Regions from separate parts of the Homo sapiens genome. Here region 2 is linked to region 1. The links come from fine-mapping of genetic effects on gene expression. Tissue or cell type: adrenal gland. Region 1 holds a variant in brackets; the other region holds the start of a gene. All regions are shown on one strand. Distances are from middle to middle.

Region 1 (5,368 bases):
TTTCGCCTGGCCTGCTCCACTGTTTGCGTTACTGGGTGGTGGCTGCAGGCATCTGAGTTTGTGGCTCCTGCTTTACAGAGAGGACTGTGGCCCCCAGGGCAGAGGGGTCCTTGCAGCAGATAAGAAGACGGCCAGCCTGGCTCTGTGAGGACTGTCAGCCCAGAAGCCAGATGGGTGGCCTCGCTTGTGAGGACACGCTCGTCTAACAGCAGTGCAGAGAGGTAGATATGCCGGTCAGGGCAGGACGGCTGAATGCAGCACCCATTGTTGCCTGGCTGGAGCTGCCCAGCCACAACTCAAGAGAGGCCTTGACAGCAGGCCAATGGCTGCCCAGCACCAGCCTTTAAGCACAGTCCTCCCTGTGCCCACGCAGTCCAGCAGCGTCCGCAGAGCCCCACAGCCCCTGCTGGAGCCCTTGAGCCTGCAGCAGCAAGGCTGCCTGAGCACATAATCCCACGGCGTGAGGCAGGTCAGGGCAGGGCTGGAGGAGGCCGCCCAAGGTGACCCTGAAGGCCACTCCCAGCTGTGATTCCCTCACAGTTCTGGGATTCCAATGTCACCGCAACATCAACCAGCCTCCTTGGACACAGTCTAAGAGGGCTGCTCACCTGACTTTCTCATGGGAGCTTCATTTACCTTTGGCCATGTGTTTCCTTTGTTTACGCATTTTGGAAGACAGGCAATTTCTGCTTTATTCATAGCCTATTATCATGGATCACCATTAGGAAGATGCGTTGTCCTTGATCCTAAACCATGGGACTCTCATTTGTCTCCAGCAAACAGCCAGACAATGTGGCACTGCACCTCTGCCCTCTGCCCGTGACATTGTAGTGGGCTCCCAGTACCTGCATAGCCTTGACCTCAGGGAAGTCCCCTGCAGAAATCTGGTATTCTCGCTGTAGCTGAATGTAGATTTCCGGTAGCCTGCTGATAAGCTCTCTCTTCTTGTTTTCCTTTCCAAATACACTTGGCATCTCCTTCTTCAGGTAGCTGATGATGTAGGCATGCACCTGGAGGGGTATAGATCAGGCAGGGAAGTGTCATTTAGAATTGCATCAGAGAAGGAACAAACAAGATTGCATCTTAACTCCATCATAACACATAACAGGTACCCACACAAACCAGGTCCCAAGGACAGGAGGAGGGGAGGGTCCAGGGGGAGTGGAGCTGTCCAAGGGTGGCCGGAATGTGGCCAGACTTGGGGAAATTCTACGGCTACTGTTCTGTTGTGCCTCTGAGTGGCAATTCTGGTGTCTGTAGGGAGTGAGTGGTATGGGTGGGGCCTGGGTGGGAGAGCTCTTAGTTCTGGCAATTAACCAGAATACCCAGGAGAAAGTTTCACCAGGCTGGTGCCTGGGAGCAACAGGAAATGAAACTGGAGGCTGGCATCAATGGCTGATCAACATGGAAATCTGTACCCAGTGAACGATGAGATGAGAATCCCCATAACCCCCCTGTTATGGGAGGTTTAGACTCTGAGATCTCTACAGGTGGAATTAAAGTCATTCTGCACAAGACCAGCTGCCTGGGATCAGGCTGGATGGCAGAAGATCCCCCTGGGAGAGGAGCCCAGAAGCCCCAGAAACCTTGATCACTGGGGCTTGGGGTAGCCAGCAGGCTGTCATTGGAGGGGCGAGAATCTGGCCTCAACATTTCCACTCTTCTACTGATTTCCAACTTCAGGATATTAAGAAATGTTCACTACAAAAGTTCTCTTTGTATATATATATTTTTGAGATGGAATCTCGCTCTGTTGCCCAGGCTGGAGTGGAACAGCGTGATCTTGGCTCACTGCAACCTCCACCTCCTGGTTCAAGCGATTTTCCTGCTTCAGCCTCCCGAGTAGCTGGGATTACAGGTGTGCACCACCACGCCTGGCTAATTTTTGTATTTTTAGTAGAGACGGGGTTTCACCATGTTGGCCAGGCTGGTCTCGAACTCCTGACCTCAGGTGATCCACCCACCTTGGCCTCCCAAAGTGCTGGGATTACAGGCATGAACCACCATGCCCGGCTACTTTGTATATCTTGAACTTCAGAGTAATTGTGAAGTCAAGTAAGTAACTAAAATAAGAAAGGATGAAAAACAGAGTGGTGATTACAAAAAGAAAATGACTATGTAGCAACGGAAAATCCTATTAAAGAAAACAGACTTCTACTGTAATCTTGTAGAAGTTGAAATTAAATAAAGGGGGTAAGCAGATACATTCCATAGCTCAGCTGAGGGCCCGTGTGTGGACACATGCTGGACACAGCCAAAAACATTTTGTGAGGATTTGGATGCTAACCTAAGTACCTAATGCAAGGTCTGACATGCTGAGGTCAGACAATGTCAACTTCCCATCTGCACAAGGGTCGTTTAACAGAAGCATGCACTGTGCAGCCTGGCTACCGCTGAGAGGATGGTCTTGGAGAGATGACGCTAAACCTTTCTGTCACCAGCAAACTTGTTTATGTACTTATTTTTCAAATGAAGACAATTGAAATGATTTACAAGATTCTTAGAGATAACTTGAGAAACCCGAAGTTTGGGATCCGTTATTTAGAATCCTGGGCTTTAACCGCTGTGATGAGCAAGTGGTAAGATACCAACTCCTTTGCCTCCGACAGTGAATGCCTGGCTTGGTGTGGGTGGGCTGGGGAGGGCCAGGGCTGAGGGAGCACCCTTGGACTGGAGGAGCTGCCACGTTCCATCAGGGAGAACCAGCTGCTCACCAGCTGTCCTTGCATCATTTCCTTGGCCTCCACCTTCCTGGAAATTCTGGATTGGGCCTATGAGTATGTTCTCTATGTATACCTATGTATACCTCTCTCTTCTGTGCTCAGGCTCACCCCACCCTGGAGC[C/T]ACCCCAAGGGAAGCAGGAGGCCCCCACAGCTGCTCAGTCTCCCAAACACAAGGGCTTCTTATTGAGACCACCCCCTTCCCTGCTCTGGGGCCTAGCCCTGGAGCAGCTGCCTAGGCCTCTGTAGGGCTTCCCAAGAGCCCTCACCACGTACTAGTAAGGTACCTCTGAGCCGCCAGGCCCCAGCTCAGGGAGGGCTTAGTTCCCGCTCATCTGGCTGACTCCTCACCCACTCCCTGCCGCCCACCCCCCGAGGTTGGGCACACTGTTCCTGAACACTCCCTGGTGCCCAGGGCCTGCTTTACCTGCACTGAACTCAGCTGATGTGCACCTGCCACACCCTTCACCCACTGAGTGTCACCTGATCCCTCGTCTCAGGCCTCATGGTGTTTGCTGGCTGATGACCGAGGTGGCCCCGACACTAGGCCTTCACAGCCCTGATAAACCTGGGGCTGATCTTGTGCCAGGTCTCAACTCCCTCCTCCTTCCGCCAGCTTGGTGCCACCTGAGTCATGACCCTTAGGTGACCTGCTCACACTGCAGCTGCTCTCGGTCCCAGCCTCCACTTCTAGGAAGTTCTGTTAGCGAGGTTTGTGGAAGTCTCCTGTTACGCTGCCTCTGCATGTCCACCCGCGTCCTGCCCTTCCTGGTGCGCCCTAAACAATAACCCAGGGCCAACTTCTGTGCACAGACCTGCTTTCAGAAGTTCATCAAGTTGGCCAGGCACGATGGCTCATGCCTGTAATCCCAGCACTTTGGGAGGCTGAGGCAGGTGGGTCACTTAAGGTCAGGAGTTTGAGACTAGCCTGGCCAATGTGGTGAAACCCTGTCTCTACTAAAAATACAAAAATTAGCTGGGTGTGGTGGTGTGCTCCTATAGTCTCAGCTACTCGGGAGGCTGAAGCAGGAGAATAGCTTGAACCCGGGAGGCAGAGGTCACAGTGAGCTGAGATTGCCCCACTGCACTCCAGCCTGGGTGACACAGCAAGAATCCATCTCAAAAAAAGAAAAAAAAATTCATCAAGTCACAAGGTAAATTATAATCCTTAGCATCATGAAATACTGAATCTGGAAGTGACCCCCCAATATCTACTTTAATTCCTGGTTCCAGGACATCCATGTGACTCACTCAAGGTCATACAGCTAGTTGGTAGATACAGAGCTGGCACTAGCATCCAAGTGCCTCGTTCCTGTCCCTAAAGAACTAATGACTCCCTGTGGGTATGCCCTGTGGGTATGCATTAATAATCTTACTGAAGTTGTTCAAAATCTGGAATTCAAAATGAACTGTGTCCCATAGAATGAGTCTGGAAAACTTTGATCTGAGGTTTGACTTCTGCTCGTGCCTAATTCACTGAGAGGCTTTGGAAGGGTCCTTTATTCTCCCTTTCCCCACACATCAAACACGGACACAATGATGGCACACAAACGTCGGGACACCACGTGGGAATGCGGGTGAAGACTGCGAGCTGCTGGCAGGATGGCATCCTGTCATTTTCTAAAGTCTTCTGGTAAACAGACGGGACAGCTTGAATGACTAAAATCCACAGTCAGCCTCCAGAGATCACTCCTGCAATTATGTGTCAAAGGTGTCTCCAAATACATGCCAGACCCAGGGCCAGACCTGGTGGTTGTCCCTGGGGAAGGAGGTGGAAACACTTGGGTCTTCTGACCTTTATAATGAGAGAAAACTAATTGGGAAGAGGAGGAGTACGAAAGAGAAGAGGGGGACTAGACCTGGAGCTTGAAGATGAGGCTCAGGCCCCGTGACCACTGCCTACCCACTGAGCAACTTGGGGCCAGGCATGGCATCTCCACCTCAGCGTGCTCATCCACAAATTAGAAATGACAACAACATTCATCTCACAGAGTTATTATGAGAATAAAAGAGGTCATGTATTTGAATGCACTCTGCTCACTAGAAAGAGGAGCAAATGTTAACTTGTTATCAACTAATGGCCAAAGACCAACAGCTGGAGGTACAGTAATGAGAGAGAGGGCTCCCGGCTGGTTACTCCTTACCAAATAATTAATAAACTCTCTCTATTTAAATAGTAATATAATGAATTTGGGTTCCAAGTGTTTAATTTACATTGACCCCTGGGGGCTTTTGAACATTCGTATCTTGTTCAAGTCATCCTTTGCCTTGTGTAAACTTGCAGAAGCCCTAAGGCATCTAATGGGGATGACTGGGGGAAATCAAATGGATCAAAATGACAAAATGACAATTTTTCTCTAGGCTAATAACTCAATGAGCAGAAAGGAAAGTCCTTCCTTTTAAATGTATATGAATGTATATGTAGTTCACACGTACACTCTGACACAGATCTCATTGTGTCCAATGATGTGTGTGTGTGTGTGTGCCTCCAAGACTGAGACACATGTACTAAAGAGTGATACTGGCCACATCTACTCTGGGCTTGGAGGGTAACTTCAGCGAGTGCTGGATGCTGGAAGCGACCAGTGCTGGAATGAAAAGCTTCATGGAATGTGAGGATCAGGCAGTAGTTTGGGGAAGGCGGGCTG
Region 2 (5,368 bases), 400 kb before region 1:
CCTATCCTCCCGAGGGCTCCGGCCTGTACTTAGGTTCTAACATCACCTCACCCTCGGGCCTGCTCAGCTGCCCTCTCCAACGGTGCACCTACCCCTGTAGCCGCCGCCGCCTCCGCCCGCAGTGCAGGCCCCGCCGCCGCCCCCGAAGCCGCCGGCCGCGGCCCAGCCAAGGGTCGCCCAAGCCTCGGAGCAGCCCTGGCCGCCCTCCGCCCCCTCCTGCAGTGAGCGGCCGGCCTGCGGAGAGGGAGCCCGCGACGTCCAGCCGCCCCCACCACCTGCAGAGCGACAGCAGGAAGGTTGGCAGCCACACGGGGAGCACGCCCGCCTCTCCCCGCGGCCCGCGCCCTCACCTGCCGCCCCGCCTCTCCCGCCGCTCCCGGGCGCCTCCGAGCGGTTCTCCAGTTTCTCGGGGGAGGCCTGAGTCCGGCCTCGGTCCCGCGGCCTCAGGTAGGCCCGACCGCCGCCTCCGGCCGCCACCAGCAACGGTTCCAGCTCGCCAGCGCGCACCTGTGGGGCCAGCGGCGTGTTCCAGGAAGCGCCCTCCAGCTGTCCAGGGGCACTGCCACTGGGAGAGGGCTCCCGCCCAGGGGGCCTGGATAAGGGCAGGGGCCCCCAGCCCAGCCCAGGCCAGCCCAGCCCAGCGCAGGGATAGGGGGACCCCAAGGGACGGACGGAGAGCCGGTGCGTGAGCGCCCCTGGGGAGAGGATTGGGACCCCAACGCTGAGCGCCGAAGGGAGCACGTACCCGGAAAACGTAGGTGGCGCCCCCGCCACCCCCGCCACCTCCCGCCCAGCGCCGCGACCCCGGGACCCCTTCGCTCCCATCCATCGCCGCGTGCTCTTCAACGGCTCGAGACTCCCCGAGGCAGACGAGCTGGCTCTCCGGGCTACCCTGCGGGCAGCGGGGGAGGGAATCGGCGGGGCCCGGGAGCCTCCCCTCGCTGTGCTGGTGACCCGGCACCGAGGAAAGCACGCTCCCCCGGCCCCCAGGCAGCCCTCGCCCCCGGCGCCGGCGCCGCCCCATCCCCACTGGCTGCGCTCACTCCGGGACAGGCGTCCTCTCCCTGCTGCCCCACCAGGATGTACAGCGACTCCCCGAGACCGAGGGAGAAGATTGCTGAGACGAAGACGCCATGCGCCCGCGACAGGTGGTTCTTGGCGCCTTTGCCGCCCGCGGCTCCGTAGGCTGAGATCCTGCGGGGAACGGACGGTGAGTCCCCGGCCTTCGGTGCTCAGGCCGGCCGCTCCGGGCAGAAGTTGGCGACAGAGGAGGCTCCAGAATTATTTTTTATCTGAGGGACTTGGAGGCTGCAATCGACTCTGACGGGATGGGAAGGGTAGGTTTGCACACCGAAAAATCAGATATTACACTTATTTCAGGAGGGTTCGTGGAAATGTGGGGAGGCTCAAGCACCCCTTGGCGCCGCCCTGGTTGGGGGCCTTCCGCTCGGTGTAAGAGGTTCCGGGTAAGGGCTAACTCGGTGGCGACTACTGCCACCTTGAAGGGCACTCAAGGTGGACCTCCCCGCGGAATAGTCCAAGACGCAAGTCGGTGCGCACGTGGACTTCGTTACCCTGAGGGTGAAACCTCCAACTAGCAGGTCACTGTCCACCCTACCTCCGCCGTGCACTTACAGATACTGGCCAGGGCCCGGCACGCGCCACAGCTGCACGCCTCTCAGCTGCCCGGCGGCCCCCACGGTCACCACCACGCTGGTCCCCGCGTACGCCCCGTCACATTGTGTCTGTGTGGGCCCATGCCGGCCGCTGGCCCCGCAGGTAGAAAACAGCCAAGACCCCTCGGTGCCTGAGAGCAAGGAGCGAGGCAAGGGTCGTCGAGCCCCTGGCTGGGCCAGAGGGGTCTGGTATGGTGAGCGAAAGAGGAAGGAGGCGTCTAAAGCTCACCCGGAGAATTCAGCGGGGAGGCTGGCTCCAAGATACTAGGCGGGGCGCTGACTTTCGGGTCCCGGGGGCTGGGACTTGCCAGCGGCAGGGGCGAGGACCGCAGAAAAGTCTCCTGGGACCCCGGGCTAGAGCAGAGAATGGCGCCTGAAAGGTGTTGGGAGAAGGCGCAGGACGTTAAGGCGGGTGGAAATAGGATATGAAAGAAAGAGAGAACCCCGCAACAGCTGCCCTTGCGGTCGCGGCCACACCCGTCACCCGGCCCAGCCGCGCTCTCAGCCTGGAAGCCACTACCCGACTCCGGTCGCAGAAGCCCCGCGGGTGCGCGCTGATAGGTCTGCCAGTTTCTCTCCTCGAGCGCCTTTCCCAGTGAATAACTTAGGGGCCGCAATGAATTTGGTCCTGCAGCCTCCCCAATGCTTTCCTCAACTTAGATTGGTGGCCCCGCCCCAAGGCGGTGCTGAGACCCCAAAGAATGTTCCTCCTTCCCAAGCTGCGTGATCCAGACTCTGGGATTCGCACGCACTTGGCGCTTCTCGGCCCGCACTCCAGAAGCACGGACCGGAGAAATTTGGCTGTGAGAGTTCGAGGCCTCTGGAGGAACCACTGACACCTGGCCTGTTGACCGGCCACCCCCAAGCCTAGGAAAGTGCCTCAGGCTGGACGGTCCCCTGACCGCCAGATAGCACTTACCCGCGGCTCCGAACCACACCAGCAGCTGTCCCCAGCAGCCCATCCCTGTTGGGTCCACCCGGCAACAAAAGCCCTTGCGGTCGCGGCCACACCCCTGTCAACCTAAAGTTGACAGCTCATTTTGCCACGGCAGCCCTGGCCACCACTTACAGGGGTGTGCTGCCGCTGGCGAGACACTCCCCGGACCTAAAGCTGGTCTGGCCACGCCCACCTCAGACCCCAGGACGCCAGAGGAGGAAAGGGAGGGGCGTGTGGGCAGCGAGGTCCCTACGCTTCCGGGAGGAGCCTTAAGGAGTCCCCACCCAGGGGTTCTAGTTTCCAGCCGTCAGATGTGCCGCAGCCTGCTGGGAGCTCCGGTAGGTTTGAGGCCGGAGAGGAGGTGCCCCACGCTTAAAGTGGGAGCCACACCTCGGACACCAGGTGGGGGCTTCCAGGTTCCTGAGGACAGGAGCAGTGGAGTGTGCACTTCATTTGTGGCAGTGGTGGTGGTGGTGAGTGTGTGGCATGCGTCACCACACGTGGGAAGTACTCTAAACTGCTCCAAGTAAGGCCTCATTACCTGCCATTACTTGTGCCTTTTAGTGGTGCCTTTGTGACTGCAAGGCTGAACCTCATTGCTACTCCCAGAAACCTGGATCTCTGTGTTTGCCTCATATAATTCCGTTGCCTGTGTTACCCCTGTGCACAGCCTCTCACTGTGATGGGGTGAAAGACTGGACCAGACGTTAGAAGATCCGAGTGTTTTTAGTAGCACTGAAGGTCAATAGATGATAGGTAGGTAGACCGATCGATCGATTGATCTTGAGCACTAGTACTGGCACCTCTGGTCAATGGGTGATGTAGCACAGGCCACAACTGCCCTGAGAGTTTCCCCACCACCTGCAAAATCATATGAAGGGAAATTGCTCTGTAAGGTACCCTACAAATGTGGGAGCCACTCCCTTCAGGTAGTTTTGTGTCTTGAGTCTTCGATCATTTGCTTAAATGATCATTTGCCGGGTGCGGTGGTTCATGCCTGTAATCCTAGCACTTTGGGAGGCTGAGGCGGGCAGATCACCTGAGGTCAGGAGTTCGAGACTAGCTAGACCATCATGGCAAAATCCCGTCTCTACTAAAAATACAAAATCAGACACACGTGGTAGCGCACGCCTGTAATCCCAGCTACTCTGGAGGCTGAGGCAGGAGAATGGCTTGAACCTGGGAGGCAGAGGTTGCAGAGACGAGATCGCACCATTGCACTCCAGCCTGGGCAACAAGAGCAAAGCCCCATCTCAAAAAAAAAAAAAAAAAAAAAATCCTAACTTGAAAGTCTGAGACCTATGTTTAATACAAAATACTTCAAAAGAGAAGTTATAGTAGTTAGCTACTTGGTAAAGTCTGAGTATAATTCAAGGTGTAAACAGAACAGTGATTTTGTAAAAAGTCTGGTCTCAGCCAGGCGTGGTGGCTTACACCTGTAATCCCAGCACTTTGGGAGGCCAAGGGGACGGTGGGGGTGGGGTGGATCACAAGGTCAGGAGTTCAAGACCAGCCTGGCTAAGATGGTGAAACCCCGTCTCTACTAAAAATACAAAAATTAGCCGTGCGTGGTGGCAGGTGCCTGTAATCCCAGCTACTTGGGAGGCTGAGGCAGAGAATTGCTTGAACCTGGAAGGCAGAGGTTGCAGTGAGCCGAGATTGCACCACTACACTCCAGCCTGGGTGACAGAGTGAGACTCCATCTCAAAAAAAACAAAAAACAAAAAAACCCTGGTCTCTATGCCCTACTTAACACTAGATATCACACTATGAGATCACAGAATTTACCTTGCAAAGTCTCTTTAAGCCACTGCTCTTCAAATTGTGGTTGTGTGGTTTGTTCTGAACATCAGCATCAGTATTACCTGGGAACTTGTTAGAAATGCAGATTCTTGGGTTTCACCCCAGATGTACTGAATCAGCAGCTTCTGGTGGTAGGACCCAGTGATCTGTTTTAAAATATCCTCCAGATGATTTTTGTCACAAAGTTTGAGAATCATTGGTATTTGCTGATACAGTAGTTGCTTAATAAAACCTATTGGGGCCACATGCTGTGGCTCACACTTATAATCCCAGCACTTTAGGAGGCTGAGGTGGGCGGATTGCCTGAGCTTAGGAGTCTGAGACCACCCTGGGCAACATGGCAAAACACCGCTTCTAATAAAAATACAAAAAACTAGCCCGGTGTGGTGGTGCATGCCTGTAGCCCCTGCTACTCGGGAGGCTGAGGCATGAGAATCACTTGAGCCTCAGAAACGGAGGTTGCAGTGAGCCAAGATCATGCCACTACACTCTGGCTTGGGCTACAGAGTAAGACTCTGTCTCAAAAAAAAAAAAGAAAAAAAGGCTGGGCCCAGTGGCTCATGCCTGTAATACCAGCACTTTTGAAGGCTGAGGCGGGCGGATCATGAGGTCAGGAGTTCGAGTTCAAGACCAGCCTGGCCAACATGGCAAAACCCCATCTCTACTAAAAATACAAAAATTAGCCAGGCGTGGTGGCACGCGCCTGTAATCCCAGCTACTTGGGAGGCTGAGGCAGGAGAATGGCTTGAACTAGGGAGGGGGAGGTTGTGGTGAGCTGAGATTGCCCCACTGCACTCCAGCCTGGGCAACAGAGCAAGACTTCGTGTCAAAAAAAAAAAAAAAAAAACCCAAAAAAACCTATTGGATAATTCTGTGTTCAGCAGCTCCATTTATGAAGACTGGGTTCTCTCTACCTACTGACAGGGCTAGGCCTTGGCACACTGCTCTGACT

Direction of the effects. Alleles are on the strand shown, and positions count from the first base shown. SD is a standard deviation of normalised expression in the study named.
For the expression in adrenal gland of the gene that starts at base 2,756 in region 2, C is the high allele of the variant in region 1 and T is the other (moderate effect, 0.51 SD a copy in GTEx).

What was found. PIP is the estimated chance that this variant, and not a neighbour inherited with it, causes the effect. A credible set is the group of variants that fine-mapping cannot tell apart.
Region 2: it holds the start of LTK, and the variant in region 1 is the best candidate, but not a certain one, in a credible set for the expression of LTK in adrenal gland (GTEx, PIP 0.54).

Annotation. Positions count from the first base shown.
Region 1 is chr15:41,908,854-41,914,221 of GRCh38, forward strand. EHD4 (EH domain containing 4) reads right to left here. Exons shown (of 6, transcript NM_139265.4): 5 at 846-1,010. Among named protein-coding and RNA genes, the nearest start is that of EHD4-AS1, 9.9 kb to the right of the region's middle. The variant C/T (reference allele first, on the strand shown) is at 2,845.
Region 2 is chr15:41,511,072-41,516,439 of GRCh38, forward strand. LTK (leukocyte receptor tyrosine kinase) reads right to left here and starts at 2,756. Exons shown (of 20, transcript NM_002344.6): 1 at 2,596-2,756; 2 at 1,906-2,049; 3 at 1,636-1,807; 4 at 1,044-1,194; 5 at 746-892; 6 at 351-507; 7 at 93-275. The coding sequence starts at 2,638. RefSeq lists an enhancer at 1,588-2,335 and a silencer at 2,042-2,121.